Linked DNA regions of Homo sapiens. The protein of the gene in region 2 interacts with the protein of the main gene of each other region in a pairwise test. Each region holds a gene or a part of one and is shown on either strand. Other genes may lie near its edges. The genes, in order: EHD3, PACSIN1, GAS7, EHBP1, SOS1, COBLL1 and KAT7.

Evidence for each region.
Region 1: the proteins of PACSIN1 (region 2) and EHD3 interact in a two-hybrid assay, tested with the Homo sapiens proteins (one large-scale study listed by IntAct).
Region 3: the proteins of PACSIN1 (region 2) and GAS7 interact in a two-hybrid assay, tested with the Homo sapiens proteins (one large-scale study listed by BioGRID and IntAct).
Region 4: the proteins of PACSIN1 (region 2) and EHBP1 interact in a two-hybrid assay, tested with the Homo sapiens proteins (2 studies listed by BioGRID and IntAct).
Region 5: the proteins of PACSIN1 (region 2) and SOS1 interact in a two-hybrid assay, tested with the Homo sapiens proteins (one large-scale study listed by IntAct).
Region 6: the proteins of PACSIN1 (region 2) and COBLL1 interact in binary tests that used the Homo sapiens proteins (3 or more experiments, as listed by UniProt).
Region 7: the proteins of PACSIN1 (region 2) and KAT7 interact in a two-hybrid assay, tested with the Homo sapiens proteins (one large-scale study listed by BioGRID and IntAct).

The regions. Positions count from the first base shown.
Region 1 is NC_000002.12:31,267,044-31,270,361, forward strand, and holds the end of EHD3 (EH domain-containing protein 3), read left to right. Parts: 3' UTR 1-2,408; downstream 2,409-3,318. UniProt on the Homo sapiens protein: ATP- and membrane-binding protein that controls membrane reorganization/tubulation upon ATP hydrolysis. In vitro causes tubulation of endocytic membranes. Binding to phosphatidic acid induces its membrane tubulation activity.
Region 2 is NC_000006.12:34,532,076-34,535,723, forward strand, and holds the end of PACSIN1 (protein kinase C and casein kinase substrate in neurons protein 1), read left to right. Parts: intron 1-345; coding exon 346-455; 3' UTR 456-3,148; downstream 3,149-3,648. UniProt on the Homo sapiens protein: Plays a role in the reorganization of the microtubule cytoskeleton via its interaction with MAPT; this decreases microtubule stability and inhibits MAPT-induced microtubule polymerization.
Region 3 is NC_000017.11:9,918,727-9,923,144, reverse strand, and holds part of GAS7 (growth arrest-specific protein 7), read left to right. Parts: intron 1-3,439; coding exon 3,440-3,519; intron 3,520-4,418. UniProt on the Homo sapiens protein: May play a role in promoting maturation and morphological differentiation of cerebellar neurons.
Region 4 is NC_000002.12:62,703,658-62,708,867, forward strand, and holds the start of EHBP1 (EH domain-binding protein 1), read left to right. Parts: upstream 1-2,055; 5' UTR 2,056-2,395; intron 2,396-2,655; exon of another isoform or gene 2,656-3,097; intron 3,098-3,239; 5' UTR 3,240-3,534; coding exon 3,535-3,638; intron 3,639-5,210. UniProt on the Homo sapiens protein: May play a role in actin reorganization. Links clathrin-mediated endocytosis to the actin cytoskeleton. May act as Rab effector protein and play a role in vesicle trafficking.
Region 5 is NC_000002.12:39,114,011-39,118,428, forward strand, and holds part of SOS1 (son of sevenless homolog 1), read right to left. Parts: intron 1-4,418.
Region 6 is NC_000002.12:164,834,869-164,839,286, forward strand, and holds part of COBLL1 (cordon-bleu protein-like 1), read right to left. Parts: intron 1-4,418.
Region 7 is NC_000017.11:49,816,181-49,819,680, reverse strand, and holds part of KAT7 (histone acetyltransferase KAT7), read right to left. Parts: intron 1,862-3,500; coding exon 1,670-1,861; intron 1-1,669. UniProt on the Homo sapiens protein: Catalytic subunit of histone acetyltransferase HBO1 complexes, which specifically mediate acetylation of histone H3 at 'Lys-14' (H3K14ac), thereby regulating various processes, such as gene transcription, protein ubiquitination, immune regulation, stem cell pluripotent and self-renewal maintenance and embryonic development.

The DNA.
Region 1 (3,318 bases), on a different chromosome or scaffold from region 2:
ATTCCCCAGTGCTTCCACACCCGGGCTCTGAGCAAATGGAAAAGACTTTTCATTTAGTAGACAATTCACTTCTTTTTCTGTGCTTCCCCTATCTGCTTTGGCTTCCTAATAAGAAATCCATTCAAGAGCTAGGAGATCTGAGGGCAGGCGGGCAGCTGCAGGGAGGAGAGGTGAGAAAGGAAGCGTCTTCTAGAGACATTGGCCCAGGAGCTCTGTTCTTTCCTAATCTAAGCCTCTGTCTTCTTCGGCAAACCTTGCTTTGAACTCTGCCAGTATTTCATTTTAAAGAATCCCAGAGCGGGAGAGAGAAGAGAAAAAAATTGATAAGAGTGAGGAAATTGTCCTGTAGTCTATTGAAAACCAGTCAAGGTGGTTTTAGTTCATAGATTTTGTTAGATGTTCTTTCCACCTGGCCTATGATGTTTAGATGTTCATACTTGACTCACATTTACCCAGCCCCTCCTGCGTACCAGGAGCTGTGTTAGGCACTTTATATACATTATTCTATGTGGCCCTCACTGATGCCCCAGGGAAGTATGCATTAGCCTTCCCATTTTGCAGTTGAGGAGGCTGAGTAGCCTCAGAAGGGTTTAGGCGACCTTCTGAAACTCACAGAAGTCACGTGATGGAGAGAGGATTCAAAGCCAGGGCCTCAGACCCTCACACACTTGTCTGTGCTATGATGTATGCAGGATCCCAGCATTGATACCCAATGACAAACTATGGAGAACAAGCAAAGTATGCAGGCCCCCTGCAGCCTCCCAGGACAGGCTGGCAAGGGAGGAGGGCCGGCCAGCATTTGGTGGCCCATCAGTCTGGCCATCTGTCACGTCACAGAAGCAAACCGTGCCTTCTGGCTCTGCGCCCCATATTCCCAGCATCATAGACATCCAACAGCACCAGCAGGAGAGTGGGCTAGCCTGCTGGATGCTGTTCGTGCCTGTCCCTGCTCTGCCTCCCACCCAGTTGCCTGAATCATCCCAGCTCAGATGCAGCCACTGTCTCTTGTCAAGTGGGACCTCATACTATTCTCAGAAGGCTAACTTGAGAGGTTTGGGGCCTTGTTCCCCAGAGGGTCCCCAGGGACTCTGCAGTGTCCTTGGCAAATCCCCACTGTACTCAATGCCCTACATTCTCTTCTGTGGTCTCTCCCCTGGCTTGCTTCATGGCCACTGAACCAATCACTTTGTATGCTATGCTCCTACTGTGATGGAAAACAAAATGAGTATAACTTATTTTATATCCATATTCAGACTATATAGAGAATATTCTATGCATCTATGACGTGCTTACTACTGCAGTGCATTTGTCATTAGTCTTCATGTTAATACAGTACATTTATTCTTTGGTACCTGCCTGGCCACAGAGCATCATTCAATGGAGGCTGAGGGAGAAGGGCTGGGTTCTTACTTGGAGTTCCTGGTGAAATCTTTGGCTGGAAAGGGCTCACTGGGGCCACCCAATGGCCAGCATCCACAACCAGCTTCCCAGTGGGCTGGAGTTTGTCTAGGCTCAGTGACCAACCCAGGCACAGCTGGTGGAGCCACCGCTCCCTGCTCCTCTGGAGTGAAGATGTTCCCTAAGCCCCTGGGCTTCCTTCTGCAAATACACATTTCTCTTTCACATGAAATGAAGGGCAGACAAAGGCCAGGCAAAGAGGTCTCACCTGCTCTGGAGAAAACCCTTGAGTGCCGAGTGCAGGTTAGGGACCATTTCTCAACTCCACACCTTTCTTCAAGCTGAAGGAGAAATGGGAAGGAAATAGCAGAGGTAGGTGAAGTTCCTGTCTTTTTATTTTATAGGAAAGGGAGATGTCTGTTATCCCCTTTCTTCACTGCCACTGGACACACATGCCACTTTCCTGCCCTTCTACATATGCTGCCTCTCTTCCCTCTCTCCATCTTGAAGTCTCCACCCAGGAGAGACCTGTGAGGTGTGGGAATTCCATGTTTGCACAGCTCCCATCTCCCTGGAAAGAGGAACTGATGTTTGAGGGGACAGATGTGGGTCACTTTCCCTGGCAGTGCCCTCTAGCCTTGCTGCCTTGGCTTTCTGACCCCTTCCAGGCTTCAGGGGCCTGGGAGATCTCATGCCTCAGCCCAGGAAACATTTAATAGGGAAAGCAGAGACATGTCATGTCAGCCCCACAGACAAGAATTTCTAGAGCACTTGTCCTGTTGTTCCTTGCCCCGACATTACTCAGTCTGGGCCATGGAATCCATCCAATAAACACAGCAACACCCTATGCTACTGACCAAGCAAAGCTTGCCCCTGGTACCAAAGAGCTAAATCATGACCAAAGTGTGACATGAATGTAACTGAAATGCGGGTTAGTTGCTCAATGTATGCAAAGTCCCACGGACAAGAGTAAAGTCTGATACCAATAAAGTGAATGTATTCCAAAGCTAGCTTGGAGGAGGGGCACACAACGTCCTGCCTTTCAATGTGCCGCTTCCCCTTTGGAGCAGAAAGCAGGCACTTTTATAAGGTAAGGGAGCAAGTGAGCAAGGGTCCGCCTGATAGCATGGTGCCTTATCTACTGGACAGTTGAGTCGGGCCTTCCTGGGCAAAAATAAATTTTAAAAGTGGCCAAGTAGGCATACTTTAGATATAACCTCCTAGTGAATGAAAGTCCTGAGGCAGCCCCTGGAGGGTGGGAGTTCCAAGGCAACCCCTGGAGGTGAAAGCTCAAGGAGGGCATGTTTTGGTCTGCAAATTGGCAGTCAATTCTGGAGGACTATTTTGGAGCAGAGAGATGAACTTGCCCTGTAGGGAATGTCTAGTGAAGGGGAGATGAAAGCTTATATTTGCATTTCCCTTTTTTTGAGACAGTCTCACTCTGTCGCACAGGCTGGAGTGTAGTGGCATGATCCCAGCTCACTGCCACCTCTGCCTCCCAGGTTCAAGCCATTCTTGTGCCTCAGCCTCCCAAGTAGCTGGGACTACAGGTACTCCACCACCACGCCTGGCTAATTTTTTTTTTTTTTTTTTACTTTTAGTGAAAACAGGGTTTCACCATGTTGGCCAGGCTGGTCTTGAATTTCTGACCTCAAGTGATCTGTCCACCTCAGCCTCCCAAAGTGCTGGGATTACAGGCATAGGCGAGAGCCACTGCGCCAGGCCTATATTTGCATTTCTAAAGGGCTACCTAGGAAGTTGGGAATCCAGGAAATGGAAAAAAGAAGAGAGGAAGAAAAAAACAGCTCTTAGAAAACTGGGGTGCTCATTTACATGAATATTTCCAGATGACACCACTGAACCATAGCAGGGCATGGGCCTTGGTTTGCAGAGTGATGAGTGGTTGCCCTGAGTCATCCC
Region 2 (3,648 bases):
TGTGGGCGTGACCTGGGCCCAGGATGGGAGTGGGGGCAAGATTTAGATTGGTTGGTGCCAGGGGCGGAGTCAGAACCTGAGAATAGTGTGGATGCGAGGTCTGGTTTTGGGGACGGACCCGACACCCAGATTAGGTGAATGGCTGAGGTAGGCCAAGACCCCTATGCCAAGGGTGGCACGTGAATGTTGGCGTGGGACTGGGGCTGGTTTCCAGGGGCGGGGCCTAAGAATCTAAAACCCAGTGCAGTAATCAGGAGGTGGGTATTGGAGGGTTCCCCTAGCAGCCGGTGCGTTGAGGGAGGGGCAGCCTTCTCTCTGAGCCCCTCCCTGTGTTCTCTTTCCCAGGAGACGAACTCACCAAGCTGGGCGAGGAGGATGAGCAGGGCTGGTGCCGTGGGCGGCTGGACAGCGGGCAGCTGGGCCTCTACCCTGCCAACTACGTGGAGGCTATCTAGAGGCCCCCTCCCTCCATACTCCCGTCACTCCTCCCCACTGCCGCCCCTCCCCTCCCACTCTCGTCTCCTTCCCCTCGCCATAGAGTTCCAGACATATTTTCCGATCAAGCTTTTATTTTTTTAAAAGTCAAAACAGAACAAAACAAAGTATGCAGAGACAGAGCATTTGCAGGGCCACCTGGAGGCTGGGGTGCTGGGGCTTGGGGTGGCCCCAGGGTAGGTAACAGTCTTAGGACTTAGCCCAACATCACAACATCTGCTCTTCGGGTTCCACCAAAGAGTCTCCTGAGCCCTGAGGGATGGATGTCTCCTGACCCTTCCACCCCGCCTCACTCCCTCCGTCCCACTCCACTCCAGGCTGCCGGCACCTGCCCCATTCCCTGGCCTGGTTTCCTAACCTCTTCTTCCTCCCCTGCCCTGCTTCCCTTCCTCCACCACCCTGCTCTCAAAGGCCTCCTCTCCAGACCCCTGGAAGGGAGGCTTCCCCATCTTTAGTTTTCCACTCTGCCCCGGGGAGCACCCTTCTACTCCTAGCCACGTCCCTTGGGACCGGTGGGACTGGAGGAGGAACGGTCACCCTCCTCCCCCATGGAGGTTTCCAGGGGTCCCCCAGACATGAAAGAGGGGTGAGCTGGAGGAAGTCATGGTGTCACTGGGGTACAGGAGGGTGAATGAAGGGCATGCAGGCCCTCAGCCCGGGCTGTGCCAGCCCTCCCAGCCCCAGGCCCATCTGAGGGACCAAGACGCTGTTACGCAGGCCCTTCTTTCCAGCTATCAGCACTTTCAGCATCGGCTCTTCAGCAGATCCAAACCCCCTCAGCAACTTGCAGAGGACCTGTCCCCTCTCAAAAGTCCCCTGGCCTAGGGTGGGGACCCCCAAACCTACGGCAAAGCCAGCAACAGTAGCAGCCTGCTCCCATTTGCTGGGGAGGAGATCATCTTGTTCCCCTGGCCCCCCACTCTCCCTCCATGTCCATCCAAAAACCATAAAATCACTGGGTTCCACATCAGCCTCCATGAGGCCAAGCCTTGTACCTGCAAGGCTCTTGGCCTAACCATTCCTCTGTCCTCTTCTCTGGCCTGCCTGGGGAGCCCGTGAAGGCCGCACGGGTGCCTCCAGCCTGAGACATCAGGGGAGAGCCTGCAGCTGAGTTCAGCAGAAAGGAGGAATCCTGGCCCTCAGGAAGAAGATAGTCACATGTTTTTCTTCCTTGTCCCCACGGCCCCCAGAACAACATTCTCCCTGCTGGCAGCCCTTCCATGTCTCCAAACCTGGGTCAGAGTGAAAGGACCTTTGGGGGTGGGTGGGAGCAAAGGGCCCACCTGCTGGTTGGTGAAAGCAGTGGTGCCGGAGTGCTAGGTACCGCACGAGAGGGTGCGGGGGCTTGGGAAGCAGACCAGGGTTGGACAAAACCCCATGAGGGCGGGGAGCTGGAAGAAAAGTCTCTTGGGGACCTCTGGGGCAAGGAGCTGAGAAGTCCTGCAGCACCAGGTGAGACTTGCTTACAGTGGATGCCACTTCTAGGCCTCTGGACCGCAGATGCCCTCCTCCCTCCTGCACACCTGGCCTCCTGGGCCTCCAGGTAAAGAGAGAGAGCCAGCCCAGCCCTGTTTCCCCTCAGTCCTCCTTTGCTCCTGCTGCTTCTCCCAACAGCCCACTGTTAGGAGGTAGTAGACCCCAGCCTCAAGGCTCTGACCTTCTTCATGTGGGCACAGAGGGTCCTGACACTCTGGCAGGGCCTGAGCTGGGGCAGGCCTCCCTCAGGGCCAGGGGCGATGGCACCCCGGGGACAGGCAGACCTCCTTCCTGCCGTCAGCACCCCCTTCCTTATCACTGTCTGGTCTCCGAGCTTCGGCTGCAGCCTGAGGTGTGTCCTGGGCTCCTCAGAGCCTGAAGCAAGCTTTTGGAAGCCTGCAGTCCTCCCAGCTCCAGTGCAGAAGCCTCTCTCTCCAGCCTTTCCCCAGGCAGGAGTTGGGGTTGGGGGCCTCTGTCCCTCATCGCTTACCTTGGAAAGGTGGGAAGCTGGCAATCTGCACCTTGGGGCCTGGGCTCCCCCTCTCTGTGCCAGCGGCTTCCCAGCACCTGGGAGGGGCTGCAGCCCCAGCTGGACTCCAGCCTGTCCCTCTTAGCACTCTAGCTGCCCACTCCAGGGCAGGGACTCGAAACCCCCTCCGTCCTGAGCAGCCACCTCCAGGGCCCTGTTTGGGACCACTCTCTCAGTCCCCAGGTCCTCAGGGCCCCAGAGCGGGAGGGTCTCCTACCTGGAAGTCCCCCTGAGCTCCAGGGCCCAGCCCTACCTGCCAGTGCTGGTGTCAGGGCACTCAACACCGAGTGTGGGGGCCACGCCCCTTGCCATGCCCACGGCCTCCTCCTGTAGCTCCTGCCTGCACCCACGATGCTGCACGGGCCCGCCCTGGTGGGGCTCGGCGAGTAATGTGTTTTGTCCCCAGTTAACCACCATTCTGCGGCCTGGTTCTGCAAGGAACCAGGGCTGCCCCACCGCCCGCCGTCTGCCGCCCTAGGCTTCCTGACTCCATTAGTTCCGACACTTGTGAAACTCCGAGAAGTGCTGTGGTCTCAGCAATGCACCTGTTTTGTACATGATTGTGTAATTTAAAGGTATATAAATACAAATATATATATATATCAGTTGTGATTGTATGACTGTGGATAAAATCCAGAACTGTGTCAACCTGGCTGCGCATTGTCATCTTGAGTCTGTGCACCTTCAGTCCTGGGGGTTTCTGAGCCCTCTGAGAGCTATTTGTGGTTGGGATGCAGGGGGGTAGGGGTGGTGCCCGAGCAGGACTGGGTGCTGTCCTGGCCCACCATCCACAGACTAGGCCACTGAGAGCCGGTCCCTTCGCCCTGCGGGGGCCTGGGTCTTGTCTGGACTGGGGAGGGTGATACTGGAGGCTCCTGGAGCTCTGGCCCATTCAGGTTCCGGGTGCCTGGTGACAGGCCCTGACCAGGAGAGCTGGGGCATTCAGGGTTCCACATTCATGGATCAAGAGTGAATGAGGTCCTCAAATAGGTTTTGCTTTTTAAAGCAGAATTCTAAAAGTGACTGCTGAGGCCCACGGTTCCTGGCTGTCCACAGTGCCAAGCTCCCTGTGCGGTGATGTTGGGCTGTGCCATGCCTTCCTGCGTCTCGCCTGGCTCTGAATGCATTTCTGTGTGGGACCCGTGGGA
Region 3 (4,418 bases), on a different chromosome or scaffold from region 2:
ACGAGGTCAGGAGTTCAAGACCAGCCTGGCCAACATAGTGAAACCTCGTCTCTACTAAAAATACAAAACTTAGCTGGGTGTGGTGGTGTGTGCCTGTAATCCAAGCTACTTGGGAGGCCAAAGCAGGAGAATCGCTTGAACCCAGAAGGCAGAGGTTGCAGTGAGCTGAGATCGCAGCACTGCACTCCAGCCTGGGCAAGAGAGTGAGACTCTGTCTCAAAAAACAAAACAAACAAACAAACAAAAAAAGACAGTGAAATATGTAACCCACCAGACATTTATTTTTCCTTACACTGGTGGTCTAACCATATTCCACAGGTTCTTATTTGTGGTGGTTTTATTTCTGCTATTTTCATTATGTTTTGCTATTTGGGTTTTCATTTGATCTTCGAACCAAGAATTGTTTCAAAGAAAATCTTTATATGTTTACAAGCAAGGGCTTTGTTGTTGTTTTCTAATCTTGCTATTTTTTTTTACATAGTTTTATTGCATTGTCATCAGATAATACGGTCTCTCATTCCTGTAGTTTGGAATTATTTTGTGACGAAAGTGACAGTCCTTAGACCTAACTCTGAAAAATACCGCCTCTTCTGAGCACTCGCTGTGGCCAGCCTCCATGCTTTAGAGCATTGTCTCTTTTGATCAGCACAGTCCCCCTGCAGGGAGGTATTTTTATACCCTTTACAAATGAGAAGACTGATGGCAGAGAAAATGAGAACCTTCCATGAGGTCCACAGTGGTGGAGCGGCGAAGCCACAATTCAGTCTCCTCTCATTCCAGAGACTCTGCTTGTCGCCATTTTGCTGGACAGCCTGTTGCTCAGGAAATGCCACCTGTTCTTTCCTTCTGTTCCTTTCCTCCCTCTTCCTCATCTTTTCCAAGGCTACTAGAAGGAAAGACATCAGATCCTCAGGGATCATCATCATCATCATCATCATCATCATCATCTTCATCACCACCATAGCCCATATTAATATTTGGCTCTCTACGCCCATCTCTATTCTAAGTGCTTTACATATTTTGACATATTTATTCCTCATAACAACTTGGTAAAGGTACAATCGTTATCTCCATTTTACAGATGAAGACACGGAGGCAAGCGCAGGATAACCGACTTGTCTACGATTACATAGCTAATAAGTAGTTGAGCTGGGATGACAACAAAGGCTTTTTTTTTTTTTTTTTTGAGATGGAGTCTTGCTCTGTCGCCCAGGCTGGAGTGCAGTGGTGCGATCTCTGCTCACTGCAAGCTCCGCCTCCCTGGTTCATGCCATTCTCCTGCCTCAGCCTCCCGAGTAGCTGGGACTACAGGCGCCTGCCACCACGCCTGGCTAATTTTTTATATTTTTAGTAGAGACGGGGTTTCACCGTGTTAGCCAGGATGGTCTCGATGTCCTGACCTCGTGATCCACCCGCCTCGGCCTCCCAAAGTGCTGGGATTACAGGCGTGAGGCACCGCGCCTGGCCAACAAAGGCATTCTTGTCCCACAATCCATGGTCTTAACCAATACTGTTCTAAAAAGTTCCAATTTCAAGCTCTTGGGCTGCCATAGAGAGAAGGTACAGCCCCCTTCACCTACTCTGTTTCCCAATGCTGTGGAAGTTCCTGAAGCAATTTCTCAAAATCAGCATTGACACACAGGGCTCAGGGAGTTTCACAGTGTACAGAGCAGCACGCCGCCCTCCTCCTCGGCCAGGCAGGAGCTCTTGCTAGAAATGCATTTGCATTTCGGAGGCTGAGGCGGGCGGATCACAAGGTCAGGAGTTCGAGACTAGCCTGGCCGATATGGTGAAACCCCATCTCTACTAAAAATACAAAAACTAGCCAGGGGTGGTGGCGCATGCCTGTGGTACCAGCTACTCGGGAGGCTGAGGCAGAAGAATCACTTGAACCCGGGAGGTGGAGGTTGCAGTGAGCCGAGATTGCGCCACTGCACTCCAGCCTGGGTGACAGAGCCAGACTCCGTCTCAAAAAAAAAAAAAAAAAGAAAAAAATGCATTTTACGGTGCAGCATCCACTTTCTTCTCTCCGGTTCAGTGCCTCTTGGGATCAAGGGTCCAGTCATTGGCCTTGGACCAAGAACAAAATGAATAAATGCCTTGGTGTGGGCTCTGTTATTCAAGGCACACTCGCGTCTGGTGTGTGGCATAGCTAGGGGTATGGTTCGCAGCTAGGCCTGGGGCCTGGAGACATAACCTTCCCTGTTCTCTTTGACTTTCCTATCAGAGTACCTATGAGCCACAATGATGATACTATAGGAGTCACTTTGACTCTACTCGAATTACTAAATTCTACTCTAGCATTCTGCTTCTAGAATTACTAGAGAAAATTACTTCACTTTGGGGTTCACTCATGAGCTTTTTCCATCGTGAGCAAACACCATGATGCCTTCCTCTTGCTGGAGCCCTGTGAGGATGAGGAAGCTACGCTGAGACAAAGCCGTGCATGAGAGCTGTGCTGCTCTGCCTGCCACGTGCACACACATTACCAGAGCGTCTCATAAACATGCAGTCTCTGATTCAGTAGGTCTCGGATCTGTCCTGGGTTTCTGAATTTCTAGCCGACCCCAGGGCATACAAGTGCCACTGGCCCACAGACTGTGATTTGTGTAGCAAGGTTCCAAGGTGCTGGTACGCTTAGTAATGTTTGCAATTACTTCGCAGTGTGTTTTCTTTCTAATTACAAAATGTTCTAAACATACATATGATAACAAAGTAATAGAGTAGTCCTAAAGATTGAATAGTTATGTTTGCCTCGGATCTTTCTGTGATGACATAAAATGCAATAGAAGGAGCTGATTCCTGCCCACTCACCCTTTCTCTGTTTCCCAAGGTAGCCACTCTCCTGAAGCTGGGGTGTGCTCCTCCAGTGCATGTTTTAGACTGTGACTACAGATGCGTTCTTTTGTGTTTCAGAAGGACATCTTGCAGTGTGTTCATGCACACACACACACACACACACTTACATGATCTGCAAATTTATCTTCCTTAATTATTCTTAGCACCAAATTGTGTGTGACATGTTTTAACCAATCTGGACTCCCCAGTGTAAAATAAAACTGCCATCTTTAGAGAGGGAAGCATTTCTTGGGCTCATGATAGGATTGGGGGTCCTAGGAATACCCTAGACACACACACACACACACACACACACACACACACACACACACACACAAAATGAGAACCACCATCCTGAATCCTTGGTATCTGGGGTCAGGCTTCAGGGGGACACCTGAGCTGGGTTCTCATGGGGCTGGGTTGCCCCCTTCCTTCCCTGGCTCTGCTTTCTTCTTCTTCCTACTGCCATCCCTTTTCCAGCTTTCCAGCGGCCACCATGACCCCAGGGGGAGGAGAAGGCTTGGCTGTGGGGCTCAGGGTGGGGCACAGAGTCATGGTGAGGATAGGATGCTTCATGATGGTGACTGTGGTCTTTTTCCAGGAGACGACCTCATGCGCTGTGTGGATCTCTACAACCAGGCCCAGTCCAAATGGTTTGAAGAGATGGTGACCACCACATTGGTAAGCGGGCAGGGATGTGTGGACATGGCAGTACAGAGGCTGACACAGAGCAGCCCCTGGTGGTTGTTGGTGGGCGCGGGGATGATGGGGTGGAGTGACCCTGGAGATGGTCATCAAATCTACTTCAGTGTTGGGGTCGAAACCTCAATGTGAGCCAGCTTATGTGGATTCAGATCTCTGCTCCAGCGCTTCCTAGCTGTGTGGATGTGGGCAGGGTTGGGTTGGATATGGCTACATCCTTCTTGGGCTGTCCCCTGAGAGGTCAGGGTCAACTGAGGACTCTCCTCAACTAAGTGGACAAGGGCCTCTTTAGGAAAAATAGCCAAGCTATAGGAAGAGAGGACCGCCCCACACATGCACACACACGAGTTGCAGGTCCTTGGTAGGAGATCCTTGCAAAGTGGATGGATGGGTGAGGATGGAGCTAGGCAGTGGGGTGGGGGAGGCCTCTCACCAAGGGTGAACAACAGGCGGCAGGGCCGATGATGCTCTTGAGTATTTCTTGTAAAGGGGCAGCATCTCCTTATCAGTCAGCACCTGCCTGAGTGGACAGTGAAGTGTGGCTGGTACTTGGGCCAGATGGGACAGGAGGCATCATGCCAGGTGCTCATCGGATCAGCCCACTGCCTAAAGCCACCCCTGTCCATCCAGCACAGGACTAACCAGCTGCCTTCCCCAGGTGTCAGCCCACCAGAGCAGATTAGAGGCCTCCACCAGGGACAGTGACCTAGTTTTCCTCCTGGTTAATCTCCTAATTAAGCCCCCTGCTTTACCCCCCTTTCTGATTAATCACCTGGGCAGTGACCTAGTTGTATGCAGAGTAACAGCCGGATCCCCTAGATTCCAAAGACACAAAACCATCTAGAAACCAGAGGACAAACCCTTTCCACGCTCCCCTT
Region 4 (5,210 bases), on a different chromosome or scaffold from region 2:
AAATATTTCCCCTAAAAAGAAGAGCTGTCATAAGAAACTATCAGTCTCTTGAAATTTTCCACAACTTGAGGAAGATTCCCTAGGGATCCTACTCCTTTATTTTTTTTTAAGACACCATTTAAAACTTATTACTTTTAAGGGAATTTCTTTACAATAAAGTCAGTCTCTCTATTTTTTCTCTCTTCCCCCTCTCCCTTTGGAGTAAGGGAAGCATGTTAAAAGAAACCAGAATGACCACATAAGAAAGTTTGAGAACTTCCAGAGAACAGTAATAAATAGGGTGCAAAAACCTTCTGATCATCATGTGGATTGTTTCTGAAGGGTAACTTGGATGAAAATAATTTATGACCATTTCTACAAATAAGCCATTAAAAAACTCCACACACTTAAAGCCTACTAAAGATGCAGAATATATTATTATATGAGATCATAATGGCTGTAGGTTGTAGTGACTTCGTAAACCACTCAGGAAGGACATCAGAGAACTCTTAATAGAAAATAAGAATCAATATGATTATTACGATTATCTTAACATTTTAGAATTGACTAGCAAAATAAGCGATAACTATGCTGTTTTCTGTAAAATGCACACTGTGCTCTTGTATTATTAGATCATTTTCTTTATTGAAAGTGGAAATTGAATTAGATACTGGATTCAAGCCTTATATCTGTCTCCCCATCTCTCTTGATTCTTCAACATGTCTCTCCACTTTGTCTTGGCCCCCAATGTCTACAGATGGACTCAATTCTCACCCATCACTGCTCTCTCTTCCTGTCCCTGAAAGAATCCTCCCTAGACCCTAACACCTTTCAAGCTACTTTGTCCATGCACCCTGCTTTCCAACCTTCGTAAGATTGAATGATCCTTGTTTCCAGAACCCATCCCGCTTGCTTTCTTTTTATGTTAGCTTGCCTCTCTTTTTTTTCCAAACTGTCTGCCCATAGCTTGCTGATGCGCCTACTTCTCTGATTATTCCTTCTCGGTCTCTTTCCCATTTTACTCTGTTTATTCCTTAGATGCTAGGATTCCCCTGAAGTTTCATTCTTTGTCCTCTTTCTCCACACCAGGGGTCTGTGAACCACCTAAAACTGAAAACAATTTTTTGTGTTTTGAGACAGAACACTTTTTCCCCCTTGAGAAAGTATCTGTAGCTTTCATATTCTCAAAAGGGCCCTTGGCTCTTTTAACAAGATTGAGTGTCCCTGCCCTCACTCTGCCTCCTCCTTTTTGCCTTTGACCACCCTTTTTATATGCTAGCTGTTCCCAAATCCATCTACAGTTCTCACTAGGGGCAAAAGAGTCCGACAGCGAAGAGGAAACCAAGATTCAAAGAAATGTTGAAGACTCCGAACAATAAGAAATTGTACTGTACACATTTTGTGTCTAGCTCAGCTGATTCAATCCCACTGAAGACCAGTTGACTCTATGTTGGGCGGGGAGCGGCCGGGGTGTCGGGGGGTGCCTGACAGGGTCATTACTTCAGGTTGTCAGGTAAGATCCCAGGAGGAACTGGTGAAATAAAGGCTATGCGCAAAAACCCTAGTTGCCAGTGGCGGAGGAGAGGGCGCGCCCAGGTCCTGGCGGAGATGAGAACAGGAGAGAAACCCACAGGCAGCTGCACTGCCCACAGCTGCAGCGAAGCCAATCTCTAGGTCTGCAATCACCCTTAGGGGCCAGAAACCCAGCCCCGCACCAGCGGCGCCTTTGACGGACAGCCACCTTCTGCAATCACCTTGCAGTTCACTATAAACACTCCCTATTCCTCCCGCCTATCGCTTCCCTCTCCAAGCCAATCAGAAGAACGGGCGGGATCGTCCTTAGTCGGTTCCTTCTTTTTTTTTTTAAAAAAAAGGTAGCCTGTGCGTCGCATTCCGGCTTCGGGGAAAAACCACCTCCCGAGCAAGGGCAAGGCGGAGCCCCTGTGATGGGCAGGCAGTTCTACCAATGAGGTGCCCCAGCCGCTGTAAGACCCGGCCGCCGAGGTGGGCGGGGCACGCGCGGGGCCTGGCCAATGGCGGCGGGGCGGTGGAGGTTGAGCTGCCGTGGGTAGGGTTAGTGTGAGAGGTGCGGCGGGGGAGGTAATGATGATGGTGGCGGAGGAGAAAGGCGGGGGAGGGGGTGCTGGGCGCTGAGCGGTGGCTCTGGCAGGGCTTGGTAGGGTGGGGGACGGTCGCGGGGCGATCTGTCAGGGAGGGGGTGGGCGTGAGGGGCGCCGTCCGCCTGAGGGGCTGCAGATCCCGGCTACCGCGAGCGCCGTGGCTGGCTTGGCTGTTCCATGTGGCTCCGGCGGGGATGGAGGACTCGGTGGCGGCGGCGGCTGCTGCTGCGGCGGCGACGGAGGAGCGGCTATGAGAAGGGAACGGGGCCAGACTCAGCCCGACAGCGGGATTAGAGGTGTGAGGAGGGGGCGGGAGTGGACGAGCGGCGGGGCCGGGGCTCGGGGTCCGGGCTGGGGTCTTCTGGTATCGCCTGGGTGACAGGGACCGCGGACGAGCCACCGCCTGTCTCCGCTGGGGGGCAGGGGTCTGGGCTCCGTGCGTGAGGAGACTGGGCTCCGGCGGACTGTTTCCCTGAGGATGGGGGAGGGAGGCACCGCACCCTGCACAGTCCACTTGCCCCGCTGGTCATTGCTTCACCCCCAGGCAGGAGTTTCCATTTCCCTCCGGTTGGCAGCGAAGGAGCCCAAGTGGCCTGGAGCCGGGACATTGCCCTCTCTCTGCCTGGAGATTTCCCTCCACTCCTCGTTCCCCATCCATTTCCTCCCTCCGACTGAAAAATAGCATTCCTCCTGGCTCCCTAATTTGTTCCAAGCACATATTGTCGGACTTGAGGCTATTAATTATCGACTGAAAAACAAAGTTTATTAAAAAATACTCCACTTCTCCCTCTTTCTGGCGGTGGACATTAAACAGCATCCCTAGACTTTCCCGCTCTGCTCGCCCTTCAGTGATGCTAACAGGGGGAGGTAGGGCCCCGAGTTACCGTCTCTCTGGATTGTTGTTGGTGCTGACTACCTGATGTGTCGCTCCACGTCTTCGGTGTGAATTGTAATTTCTTCCTTGGTGTCTTGCATCCTTGATGTTACTGGCTTTTGAGGTCAGTGTTTTGTTTCATTGTTTAAAAGACATGCAGAGAACTGGGATGGTCTTTTGCAGCGTTATTTAACATGGGTGGTTAGTCATTTCTCATGATTCTCTCCTCATATTCTTTCTCTTTTTGTCTTTGTTTTGCTTTTCAGCCCTCCAGAATACCCATCATATAGCCCCTGAGGTGGCATGGTGATGTCTCCATGAGGGAACCCCTTCCCACTCATCCTGTCACGTATATCATAGTGTTCTTGACTGGGCCATTCATCTAAGATGGGATTTACCCTGTGAAACAGGGAGAAGACTTATGGACCCCAAGCATCATTTCGAGTTGTAGTTGAGTTTTTAAAAGACATACATGCAAAGTTCCTTTGCTTTGGACCCTCTGCATTATTAAAGCTGCTGTATTGCTAACCCAGAACTGCTCCAGTGTCTTGACTGATCATCATGGCTTCAGTTTGGAAGAGACTGCAGCGTGTGGGAAAACATGCATCCAAGTTCCAGTTTGTGGCCTCCTACCAGGAGCTCATGGTTGAGTGTACGAAGAAATGGTAAGATGTACCTGGAGGTAGATTTTGCTGTGCTGTGGCCTAAGCATACTGTGGCCTAAACTCTGGGTCTTCTGATAGTATATTTACCTTTCTATAGTGCACTAGTGTGTAGAAGCTGGGTGGGGCGCAGATAACTCTAACAAGTACTGTGCTGTGCACTGTTGCTGCTAGTACCATCCCTGTGGATTTTAATTACTGCGCTTCAGTATGGCTCAGAGGACTGTAACTGTGAGAGCACACTAAATACAATAGATTTGGTTTTGAGGTTATTCATCATTAGTGTTAAAATAACTTTGATTTTTGTAATTTTAAGGAGACAAAGAATGGCTACTGAAATATTGTGAGCATTAATCCGTATATTTTAATATAACAGGCATATGATTTAATAGAGTTTTAATATAGAAGTCTATATTCTTGTGGGGTGATGGTAATCTATTTTATTTTTGTTTTTTCATTTTTCCTTGCTTAGGATAAAGAATTTTTCATTATTTGATTAATGGAATGCCATCCACAAAACCTTAGAAATTCTTTTGTTAAATGCTTACTCAGGCAACTGTATTTTATTTTAATTGCCTAATGGGATACATTTCTTGGCCAGATTTAAGGAAGCAATTAGTAGTGCTGGTCTGTGATTGGCTTTTTTCCACTTGAGAAGAGTAAATATAGGGCTTTCTTTCCATTGCCCTGAATGATAAACAACAAAAATTTTTTATTTAGTGAGAGAAAAAAGTTAATTTTAAGCAAATGGTCGTTTGGGTCTTGATTTACTGCAGTGATTAAGCAGTAATGGACTTATTGCAAAATAAGTCCATTTCTTTGTCCAGAAGGACTGTAATTCAGGTCTGTAATAATTTTTCTTTTTAACATCCATTTTATTAGATTAAAAAAATAGCTTGCTTTATTCTAGAACTCTTATATTTGAATATTTATTTGGAACTAGTTTCTGAATGCTTTTCTCTTCAACTTATTAGGAATATTATTTTAAAATCAGTTTGAGAAATGCATGCACTCATTACCTACTTTATACCAGGTACTGTGGATTTAGAGTAGAATACAACATAATCCCTGTCCTCAAGGAGTGTGCAGTCCAGTATAAGGAGAGTCACATGAATAAATTCACCGTGAGAGATGCAATAATATAAATATGTATGACATAAGGATTTTAATCTGTCTCGATACAGTTGAGTATCTTTGAGGACGGGTTATTTAACTTCTCCGTGATTCAAGTTTCCATATCCATAAAGGTCATAATGGTGCCACTTCATGGGGAGGGTAATTGTGAAGATTAAATGAGTTAATACATTTAAAATGCTTGGAACAGTGTCAGGGACATAGTGCCTAATAGATGCCATTATTATGTACAGAGGTCGCAGAGGGAAAAACAATTCTTTAAGGGTAGAGGATGAGTTGTTGGGATGGCTTCCTGGGATCTGAGCTGGGTTTTGAAAGATTCATAGTTGTTGTCCAGGAAGCCAAGGGAGAAGACGTAAAAGACATTCTAGACTGAAGCAACAACCTATGCAGAAACATGGGAGGCTTACCTAGCATGGGATGTGCTGGAAATTCAAGTAG
Region 5 (4,418 bases), on a different chromosome or scaffold from region 2:
TTAGCTGCCAAACTTAACACTTTTCAGGCCCTTTGACTTTTCTATAGCCTGGTATGATCAATGACTCTTTCTTTTCTTTCTATTTTTGTTTCTTTCTTTTTCTGAGACAGGGTTTTACCCTGTCACCCAGACGGCAGTGCAATGGCACGATCATGGCTCACCTCAGCCTCAACATCCCAGGCTCAGGCAATCCTCCCACCTCAGCCTCCTGAGTAGCCAGGACCACAGGTGCGTGCCACCAAGCCTGGCTAATTTTTTTTGTTTTTTGTTTTTCTTTTTGTTCTTTTCTTTTTTTTTTTTCTTTTTTTCTGAGATGGAGTTTCACTCTTGTTGCCCAAGCTGGAGTGCAATGGCACAATCTCAGCTCACCATAACCTCTGCCTCCTGGGTTCAAGCAATTCTCCTGCCTCAGCCTCCTGAGTAGCTAGGATTACAGGCATGCGCCACCACGCCCAGCTAATTTTGTATTTTTAGTAGAGATGGGGTTTCTCCATGTTGGTTAGGCTGGTATCGAACTCCTGACCTCAGGTGATCCCCCGCCTCAGCCTCTCAAAGTGCTGGGATTACAGGCGTGAGCCACCTGGCCCGGCTGATTTGTTTTTGTTTCTTTTTGAAACAGAGTCTAGCTCTGTCACCCAGGCTGGAGTACAGTGGTGTGATCTCAGCTCACTGAAGCCTCCAACTCCCAGGATTCTTGTGTCTCAGCCTCCCGAGTAGCTGGGATTACAGGCGTGCACCACCACGTCAGGCTAATTTTTGTATTTTTAGTAAAGACAGGGGTTTCACTATGTTGGCCAGGCTGGTCTCAAACTCCTGACCACAGGTGATCCACCTGCCTTGGCCTCCCAACATGCTAGGATTACAGGTGTGAGCCATCGCACACAGCCAACTCTTTTCTTGAAGCATTCCTCTCTCAACTTCTCAGACACTAGGGTTTCATTCCTTCTGCCTGACTCCTTGCTTCTCGGTCTCCTTACATCATTCCTTTTCCTCTGCTATCTCCCTATACACTATTTCCCACTCCCTTCCCCCACTTCTTATGCCAGCCCTTTTTCAGTCTTACTAAAATCATTTTCAGCGTGTGGTCTCATCTACTTTTTAAAATACCTTCATTGAGGTACAACTGACATACAATAAACTGCACATATTTAAAATATACAATCTGAAAAATTTCAGGATATGTACACACCCCTGAAACCATCAGCACAATCAAGATAAGTAAACATAAAAAGCCTCTCCCTAAACAACCACTGATCTGCACTAGTTTGCACCTTCTAGAATGTTCTATAAGTAGACTCATATAGTATATACTCTTTTTTGGTTTCCCTTCTTTCATTGAGTATAATTATTTTGAGATTCAGCCATGTTGTCATTTGTATCAAATTTGTTCTCTCTCTTTTTTTTTTTTTTTTTTTTTTTTTTGAGACAGGGTCTCATTTTTTTGCCCAGGCTGGAGTGCAATAGCACAATCACACCTCACTGCAGCCTTGACCTCTCAGACTCAAGCAATGCTCCCACCTCAGCCTCCCAAGCAGCTGGGACTACAGGCTCATGCCACCACACCTGGCTAATTTTTTTAAATGTTTTGGCTAATTTTTTAAGTTTTTTGTAGAGACAGGGTTTCATTATGTTGCCTAGGCTGGCCTGGAACTCTTGGGCTCAAGTAATCCTCCCACTTTGGCCTCCTAAAGTGCTGGGATTACAGGTGTGAGCCACCACACCCAGCCAGTTTGTTCCTTTTTATTGCTGAGTAGTATTCCACTGTTTGTATCACAATTTGCTTATTCATTCACCTGTTGACGAACATTGGATTTTTTCCAGTTTTTGACTGAAAAGAGATGCCATGAACATTCATGTATAAGTCTTTGTATAAGCTTCATCTATATTTATGGCTTTACTTACACATCTAGAAGTTCCAAATCTGCTTCATCAGATACCAACAACCAATAGTATTCCACTGTTTGTATCACAATTTGCTTATTCATTCACCTGCTGACGAACATTGGATTGTTTCCAGTTTTTGACTGAAAACAGCTGCCATGAACATTCATGTATAAGTCTTTGTAGAGGCTTCATCTATATTTATGGCTTTACTTACACATCTAGAAGTTCCAAATCTGCTTAATCAGATACCAACAACCAATAGCCAGTTGGAGAAGTTCACTTGAATAACCCAAACTTTTAAGTCAACATTTCCAAAAATCATCTTATTATGCCACTCCTCTCTCCATCCTAAGAGCTTCTCCTACATTCTCTATCCTGACTAAAGACAATCAAGTCAGAAACAAGACTATTCCTGTTCCATTACCATTCCCCCAATCACTCAGTGAGTTACTAGATCCTGTCAATTTTGCCTTGTAAACTTCTTTCAAATAAAATCCACATCCATATTTCCATCCTTGTTCAAATGCACCCTTAGTTCAAATGTGTATTATCTCTTGACTGGACTATTAAACTAGGCTTCTAACTTTTCTCCTCACTTTACGTCTCATTCTTCTCCAAACCATTTTCCATTCTATGGCCAAAGTGAATTTTCTAAAATTAAAATGTGCTGTTACTCCCCTACTTAAAACTTATTGGCTGGGCACAGTGGCTCACCCTGTAATCCTAGCACTTTGGGAAGCTGAGGCAGGCAGATGGCTTGAGCCCAGGAGTTCAAGACCAGCCTGGTGAAACCCCATCTCTACAAAAAATACAAAAATTATCTGGATGTGGCAGTGTGCCTACAGTCTCAGGAGGCTGAGGTGGGAGGATAGCTTAAGCCCAGGAGGTGGAGGCTGCAGTGAGCCAAGATCGCACCACTGCACTCCAGCCTGTTAAGACTCTGTCTCAAAACAAACAAACAAAACAAAAACAAACAAAAGAAACTTTATCAATGGCTTCTAATTACCCAAGAAAAAATTTAAATTCCTTAGCTTAACATATATAAAAACTGTTCATAAACCAGTTGTCTCTCCAGACATGCCCTGCCACTTCCCATCATGTTCTAATTTAGTCTTTTCTGATTATGTCATTTACTTTTTTTTTTTTTTTTTGAGACAGAGTTTTGCTCTTGTTGCCCAGGTTGGAGTGCAGTGGTGCAATCTCGCCCCACTGCAACCTCCGTCTTCCGGTTTCAAGCTATTCTCCTGCCTCAGCCTCCCGAGTAGCTGGGATTACAGGTGCCCACCACCACGCCAGGCTAATTTTTGTATTTTTTAGTAGAGATGGGGTTTCACCACGTTGGCCAGGCTGGTCTTGAATTCCTGACCTCGTGATCCGCCCACCTTGCTCTCCCAAAGTGCTGGATTACAGGCGTGAGCCACTGCGCCCGGCCCTGTCATTTACCTTTTTAGCCTGAGTGTCAAGGGCAATACCTGGTCTATAGTAGGCATGATATATTTGTGCAATAGATAAGATAGGACTTAGACTCATAGATGCGGTGAAACAGATACAGTGGGACATTCCAGCCATATTCAGGAAAAGTAGCAGTCCGGACTGGCTAAAGCAAAAAGGAGATAAAAGGTTATGGTAGACAATCCAGTCAGAAAAGCAGGATGAAGCCAAATATCAATTGCTGTTAATTCTATGCTAAAAAGTGCACTTTAGCATAGGTTGAACTCAAAAGACATCAACAATTCTGAGTGTGACATGTTCAGAAGTGTCCTATAACTGGTGAGATTTGAAAAACAGAAGGTGAGGTGGGGGCCAGTGAACCCCATTAAGAAGTTATCACAGTAGTCTGACAAAGGAGACTCAATTAGAGAAGTCGGAGGAGGAATAGACTAGAAGAACATGTCAAAGGGAAATGAACATACAGGCTCTACCTGAGTGTGCACAGTAATACAAAGAAGCCAGAGATGACCCCAACATTTTAAACCAGTCAAATGTAACAATAAAGCCATTAATCGAGAAGAAAAACTGAAATGACAGGTGGAGGAGAGAAGTGATAGTTTTAGTTTGTATATCCCCTCACCTATTTATTCAAATTGAGTGCCTACCAGATGTCAAGCACTATAAGTATGGGGAATAAAATGTGGGTAAGATATCATCCCTGTTCTCAAGGAGCATCCAATCTAGTTATAGGCAAGTAAATAGGAACTTAAAATTCACAGAGCTAGGACAGGGTGCAAAAAGAAAACAAAGGAGTAATATCCAACTCAGCCCTGATGATTTGACAGTTCAGGTTGAGTGAGTCTAGAAGGATGAGTAGTGTTGGACCAGGCAAAGAAGGATGAAGGGACTAGCATATCCAAAGAGCCTCAGGTAAGAGTAAGAGAACACAAGTCGGATGTATCTACGAATAATTCAATAACAAATCAAAGGAAGAAATCAAGATATGGAGATATCCACATGAAATGTCCAGCAGGCAAGTAAAAACGTAGGTTTTGAGCTACCAACAGCATATCCAGATATGAAACATACTGTATTTTCAATCT
Region 6 (4,418 bases), on a different chromosome or scaffold from region 2:
ACAAATGGCCAATGAAAAGGTATTCAAAATCACTACACATTAGGGAAACAGGAATCAAACATGCAATGAGATACTACCACATACCCATTAGGATAGCTGCTACAGGGAAGGGGGGCTCTATAACATAAACGTTGGTGAAGAGAATTGGAACCTCATGTACTTTTGGTGAATGTAAAATGGTACAACCACTGTAAAAAAAAACAAAACAAAAAAAGAACAAACAAAAAACAGTATGGCAGTTCCTCAAAAAAATTAATAAATAAAACTGCTATATGATCCAGACTTTCTATTTCTAACAACACACCCAAAAGAACTGAAAGTAGGGTCTTCAAGAGGTATTTGTACACCCATGTTCATAGCAACAGCACTATTCACAATAACTAAAATGTGAACACAACCCAAGTATCCACTGATGGATGGATAAGCAAAATGTGATCTATACATACAATGGAATATTATTCAGCTATAAAAAGCAATAAAGTACTGATATATACTACAACATGTATGACATTATGTGAAATAAGCCAGTCAAAAAAAGACAGACTTTGATCTCACTTGTAAGAGGTACCTAGAGTAGTCAAAATCAGAGACAAAGTAGAATGGTGGTTTTCAGGGGCTGGAGAAAGTGGAATGGGGAAGTTATTGTTTAATGGGTATAGGGTTTCAGTTTTGCCAGATGGAAGGAGTTATAATGATGGAAGGTGGTGATGGTTCAACAATATGAATGTGCTTAACACCACTGAACCATGCAGTTAAAAATGGCTAAGATGGTAAATTTTATGCTATGCATATTTTACCACAATGGAGAAAAAGGGGGATAAAAAAGCAGGTAGAGGGCTGTTTTGACTTTCAGGACATAGTTTGCTGACCCATAAGTTAGGCTGTTGCATTTTAAATTCTAAGCATAGACATAATGTTTTAAGCCAGTAACAAAGTACCATTTATACACTAACATCATGTTCATTTTATTCCTACAGATACATATAATTTCTGTAGTGAAGTTCTTAAGATTAGAAGCCTATTTCCCAGTACCTAGAAAAATATGTTTTATATAAAGTAAGAGTTCAGGAGTTTTTGACTGATTAATTAAAAGTAGTTGTCTTAATAACATGAAGTTTGGCATTTATTATTATATTAACACATCTGGCGTTTCAGTACAAATATAAGGTCATAATATTGTTATTCAATATCCTCTAACTCATGTAGAGGTAATTGATTTTGAAGGGCAAGTATAGCATTTTTAATAAATAATTTCATTTTTGTTATTCAGTAATCAAAAATCCTACTTTTGAAATATTGTTATACATTTAATAGCTGCCTAATATCAAAAAATAAGTATAGACTTTGTCATATGATGAAAAAAACTGCCAGTTTACTATGAGTTAAATTACATCATACCATACACAGGAATATGTTACACATTACTTTGAAGACATAAGCCAAATAATTAATCTCCTTTTAAATGCTAGACATTTTATATGCATTGAAATTTATAGTTTTTAAATATAAAATGTAAACATAATTTTAAAAAGAATCAAGATAATGCTTTTATAAGGCCACTTTAAATAAAAATCATTTTTAGCCATTCAGTATAATCCATGGTAGCAAACATAGCACTATGAAAAGCATAGGTTTGGAATCAGAGCTTGTTTCTAATACTCTTCCATTCCTTAGAGTTGTATGACCTTCAATGTGTTAATTAAGCTCTCTGATCCTCAGTTTCATTCATTGTAAAATGAAGTTAATATACTTATTCAAAAAGAAGTAGCAAAAGCTTTAAAAATAATATTGCAAAGCAGCTACATGGAATCTTTCAAAAGGCAAAATAATGCTAAAGTTACAATCTTGAGTTCCCTATAAATGATTAGTAACAGCCTCTATTCTCTTTTTTGCATCAGCTCCATGTCAGCTATTGATATCTACTTAATCAATGATTCTCAAATCTGGTCACACACTACAATCACCTGAGCAGCATTTTAAAACTAGCCATCCCCTGGTCCCAGACCAAGAGAATTAAAATCAGAATGGGTGGGGGCATGAGAGCCCAAGAATTCGTGTGAAAGTATCCCAGATGACTCCCATGTTGAAACCTCAGAGAAGTCACTCAACTTCAAGTATTCAAGAACTCAGTTCATACAATCAGTGAAACTTTAGAACCAATAACACTCCTCAACAAAAGCTTAAGAAAGCAGCTGTTAAATCATTCTTTAATTTTTCGTATGCCTTCAATTAACTCCATAGCTCCAAAGCTGCAAAATGATAAAGAGAGCTTTTGTCCCCTCTGTACATTCCTGAAAATGTGCTTCAGAATCAAAATATTAAGATCCCTCAGAGCAAGGTCAATTAAGCTTTTGACATTTAAATTTCGAAGGATTTTTTTTTTTAAAGCATATCTGGGCAAGTAAAGAACATAAGCACTAGTTCCAAAGATAAGCACCCAAGTTGATGTCAGCAATCATGTTGCTTTTTCTAAGTGATTAATGTCACTTTACTAAGTACTAATATAGAAAACTTAAATAAATTTACTAATTGGATATCCACGTTAGAGAAGGAAATTACTTTTGACTATCGCTCTCTTCTCCAATGCAGCATTTCAATTTTCCAACCAGTGTCTCCAACATTTTTGCTCTCTGCAAAAAAAAAACGCAAACCAACCTAGGATTTCCACTTCATAGAAACAAATATAAAAATGATTTATCATTTTTCATCTAGATCACTATGTAAGTTAAACCAGTCAACTTTCACATACATATGAAAACATATATACATGAATTAGATAGGAGTATATATGTATGTATATGTATAGTATACATAAAATATGTAATTATATATGAATGTACATATTACATTTGAATATATATAAAGTTGCATGCAATCTTTTTTCTCGAAGGAAAACCGAAACTGTTGTGACTCAATGTCTTTTGATATCTAAACTCTTAACCTCATAACGAATTCCAAAAAGAAGCCCATAAGATACAGAACAACAAATATAAAGTGGATACTTCTGCATGTTACTAAGAAAGTGATCTAAAGCCAGGCACAGTGGCTTGTGACTGTAGTCTCGGCCATGCAGGAGGCTGAGGTGGGAGGATCACTTGGGCCCAAGAGGTCAAGGTCAGCCTGGGCAACATAGCAAGACTCCAGCCTGTCTCAAAAGAAAGGGATCTAATCTAGAATGGTAAGGGATTAAAGCAGTACAGTAGAGGCCAAAATGAAAGACATTCAAGATGACCACAGGATCAGACCCTTTTAAGGCAGGGACTTCACCAGCACAGACCCTACGGCAGCCACTATTTCTGCACACCATTGCTTCCACTGAAAAGAAAATGACACCCAACCCATATAATTCACAATGTCGTAGAATGCTAAATGCGAGTTAAATGTGTGAAGGCACCAAACAAACTTCAAACTATCCCTTTTGATGTTACAATTATTATTTAGAATGTTTCAAAGAAAAAGCAGCAGCTGAGAGGCCATAAAACAATTTTATTTTCCTAAAATACTCATTCCCTGAATGGGCTAATTTATCATAGAATTAATAAAAGTGAAGATAAGGATATCAACTACATTTTTCCTGAAATGTATTAAAATATTACAGAGTTAATGGTTAAATATAAGTTATCCGTTAAAATGTATAACGTCATGGTATGTTATATCATACCATGGTCAAGAAAAGATAAAAAGCAATTAACAAAATGAACTAGGCACTTGGAGTTTTTCTTCTGGTTTTACTACTAATTTGCTGGGACTTCAACACACTCAGTGTTTCTGAGCTTCAGATTCTCATTTATAAAATGTGGAGAACAAAACTTGGTGCTATGTTAAAATGACATGTTACAACAATGTAAAACTTGGAAAATTACAGAGGAATTCTTTCCAACAGTAATATCCAAGGATAAAGACTAAACTAGGCTTCATTGTCTATTAAAGTAATGAGTTATGATATAATTAGTCAGTTTTATAGCAAGAAATTTATCTCCAAAACCTAACAATTATAACATATTAAGATTTCTGCCTGCCACTTCCCAAATACCCTTATCTAGATATTTTTCCCCCAGTTTAAACCTTTTATAATTTGGGTTTTTGAGAGAGAAGAGAAGCAATACTGAATATTAAATATTCAACAAATCTTATATGACAGGCATTCGGAATATGCCAAAGGACAAGTTAGACAAGTGAAATAAGACAAATGAAGTAGAGAGGTAATTTTTTCATGTTGATATTTTTCAGGTAATGATAACTTCTCTGAGTAGAATAATGTAAGGCAAAATGATAGAACTACTGTGTTATTTTAGATAAGGTGTTGACAGATTTTCCCTACTTAAATTTGAAAAGGGGACGGCAAAAGTCCTTTACAAATGCTTGACAAATTAGATAAGGCTCTTTTGTACTTTCTTTTTAAGCAAAGAACTTATCAG
Region 7 (3,500 bases), on a different chromosome or scaffold from region 2:
TAAATTAGGTATTTCCTGAAATCTGATTTTTATATCATATAATATGGAAGATTTTCAAATATTCAGAATGTTTATTTGATTCTCAGATTTATTCAGACTCTTTGTTTTCTCCTTCTATTACTATTTCTTGCCCTTTTGGCTATTTCATTGGTTTGTGTCACTCAACAACCAGAAACGAAAAGGAAAAAAGGCATAAATGGTAAGCAGTTCACATCAATAAAAATACCCGCTTTCACACAGTAAAACCATTTTACTTTATCTCCACGGCCTGCCATCTGTATCAGTGCCCCACCTTCTGACCCCATTATTTCCTGTGCACTGATATTTCTACCAATCGCCGCCAATCACCTCCCCTCCATGACTCTAGCCCTATGCAGTCAAGTGTGCCAGGGTCTGGAGAACCTGAGTCAAAGCAACAGTTCTGGGCCCTGAACTTACAGACCACATGCTCCTGAACTGGGAACATAAAAAAGCAGTTATCACCAACCAAACTGGGGAGAAGAGTATAATGACAGAAATCACAGGAAACCTGGGTCATAGATGCTCAACATATGGAAATCCTGGGAAATAAAAAAGGAAGGGGAAGGAAAAAGAGACACCCCAGAGGCCTTAGAGCCAAATTATATTGTGATTATGAGAACAAGGGCTGGGCACAGTGGCTCATGCCTGTAATCCCAGCACTTTGGGAAGCTGAGGTGGGTGGATCATGAGGTCAGGAGATCAAGACCATCCTGGTCAATATGGTGAAACCCTGTCTCTACTAAAAATACAAAAATCAGCCAGGTGTGGTGGTGTGCGACTGTAGTCCCAGGTACTCAGGAGGCTGAGGCAGGAGAATCGTTTGAATCTGGGAGGCGGAGGTTGCAGTGAGCCAAGATCGCGCCACTGCACTCCAGCCTGGTCAACAGAGCAAGACTCCCTCTCAAAAAAAAAAAAAACAAGAAAAAGTCTTCTCTGCCTGAAAGGCTAATCTCTACTCCTTCCCCTGTTCCGCACCCTTGCTCCATGGCAGAAATTCCCCTTAAGACAAAGCTTATTCTGTAACAGAGCGGGGGAAAAATGGCTTTTTTTTTGAAGCTGCAAAAAATCTAGTAAACCTATTTGTCAACAATAACAGATTCAACTCCTTATACCTGTTTTATTAGGAAAAAGAGGGGAAGGCACCAAAGGACCCACTCTGCTACTTTCATAATCTGTCACAGGCTGATCACTATTAAATATTAATAAGTACCCATTCAACATATACTTCTTGGGCATCAGTTGTCCACACTAGTTGCTAGGGATATGAAGGTGAGCCATGCTGTCTCTGCTGTGCCTAATGAAGTCTGTATTTTCATCTAGTTTGGGACACACAAAACCTGTGGGCAGAGGTAATTCATATTCCAAGGAGGAAATGAAGAGCAGTAGGCAGCAAGAACAAAAGACAAGAAGATGTACATGACAGGATGTGGGTAAGGGCCCTCAGCTGCTTTGGGTGGCACCCAGCACAAGCCATACCTCAGGCTCTATACCCCGCCTTAAGCTGTGGCCTGTCATTTCCTATGCCTTCATCCCACTGCTGAGGACCACTGAGAAGGTGCCTGAACAGATGCCATCGCTATGGCAAAATCTAGAGATCCTACAGCTTATTGCCATCATGGTCAAGGCAGAGGAACCCAAGACAACTCACCATGTGCCGGCGGAGTATCGTTTGGCTCTTCATATATTTTAAACAGAATTCACACATATAGAGACGTCCCAGCCGTGCATATTCTTCAGGATATGGAGAATGATACCAGGTATCAAGCTCATAGCGGCCAAAAGCAATTGTTTTAATCATGTTGCTTCCCTCTGTGATTTGGCCTTGCAGCCTTAACTTCTCCTATTGCCAAGAAATCAAAAGTCAAAGGAGGATCAGAATTTATTATCTTTGCTTTTAGACAGGGCACAGTGGCTCCTGTAATCCCAACACTTTGGGAGGCTGAGGCAGGCAGGTCACTTAAGGCCAGGAGTTCGAGACCAGCCTGGCCGAAATGGCAAAACCCCATCTCTACTAAAAATACAACAATTAGCAAGGTGTGGTGGCAAACAATTGTAATCCCAGCTACTTGGGAGGCTAAGGCAGAAGAATCGCCCAAGAGGCAGAGGCTGCGGTGAACCGAGATCGCACTACTGCACTCCAGCCTGGGAGACAGAGCGAAACTCCTTTTTAAAAAAATAAATATTATCTTTGTTTTTAAAAGTGTGTGTGCATGCCACCACGCTAGGCTATGAAAAAAATCAGACAGATTTGGCTTCTATCCATGAGAATTTACACTAAAGAGAGCTACATGAAAAATCACACAGGTGTACAGAAAACTTACTACCCATACTGCCCAGAGCACAGGTCTCAAAAGAGAGGTTTCTCTGCTACCTCCCACATTCTGGGCCTCACCAGAATGATACCTTGGAAACTTCATTTTTATCAGCCTAGACCAAACTGAATTATAAAGAAAATCATCACAGATACAAACTCCCCACCCTTATAAAGTATTCTAAAACTAAACAAAAAACTTGATTTAGAATCTGCCTTACTTATCTGCAGAAGCTTTTATAAAGCTATATGAATCTCCGTGAAATATATCCACAATGGTCACTTAGAAAAAAAAACAGGCCCTTTAAAAAATATTTTTGAAATGTGCATGATAATTCTAGAATCTAAACTCTAGAAGGCAGAAAATATTTCTGGGATGGGTGTAGTGGCATGCCTGTAGTCCCAGCTACTCAGGAGGCTGACGTGGGAGAATCGCTTGAGCACTGAAGGTCGAGGCTGCAGTGAGCCATGATGGCACCACTGCACTCCAGTTTGGGCAACAGGGCAAAACCCTGTCTCAGAAAAAAAAAAAATTCGGATATCCATCTCCATTCAGTGGCTCTGAGTTGGCTACAAAAGTATAATTTGTAAGCATAACCAGGTGTAAAGTTGTAAAAGGCTAGCCCAGGAAATGCTCCATGCCAGAATAGGATAGAGAAAACCAGCAGCAGTAACAGCCCATCCCAGCCAAGGGTAGCCAGCAAACCCTGCCTCTGCCAAGTTTTCAACAAGTCTAGTATTTGATACAATTTTTTTTTAATACAAGGGGGAAGGGGGTGAAGACGAGATTCACTTTAAAACTGAGCTTCCCTGAACACATTTAATCTGTTATATCAGAGGTAAACTCAATCACCAGAATTTTCTTCAAGCAAAGTTGTTAAAAATTCTGCCTAGGACAGCAACTCAGTATAAACTAGCTCTAAATAAATATCAGAATGGAAAACCAATGTATCAAACTTGGCTGTGTCAAAGATTAATTCTAAAACATCTGACAACAGCCTTTTCCATTATTCCTCTTCACTGTTATTTTCATTCTTAGTGCAGAGGAAACCTAGCAAAAGGGGAGTTCCTGTTGGGATTAAGAAAACAACAGAGATGAGTCTCTCCTAGGCTACAGGTTCTCAGAATTGCAAATTGCCCAGCTGAGACAAAGGGGCGCCTATGGTTT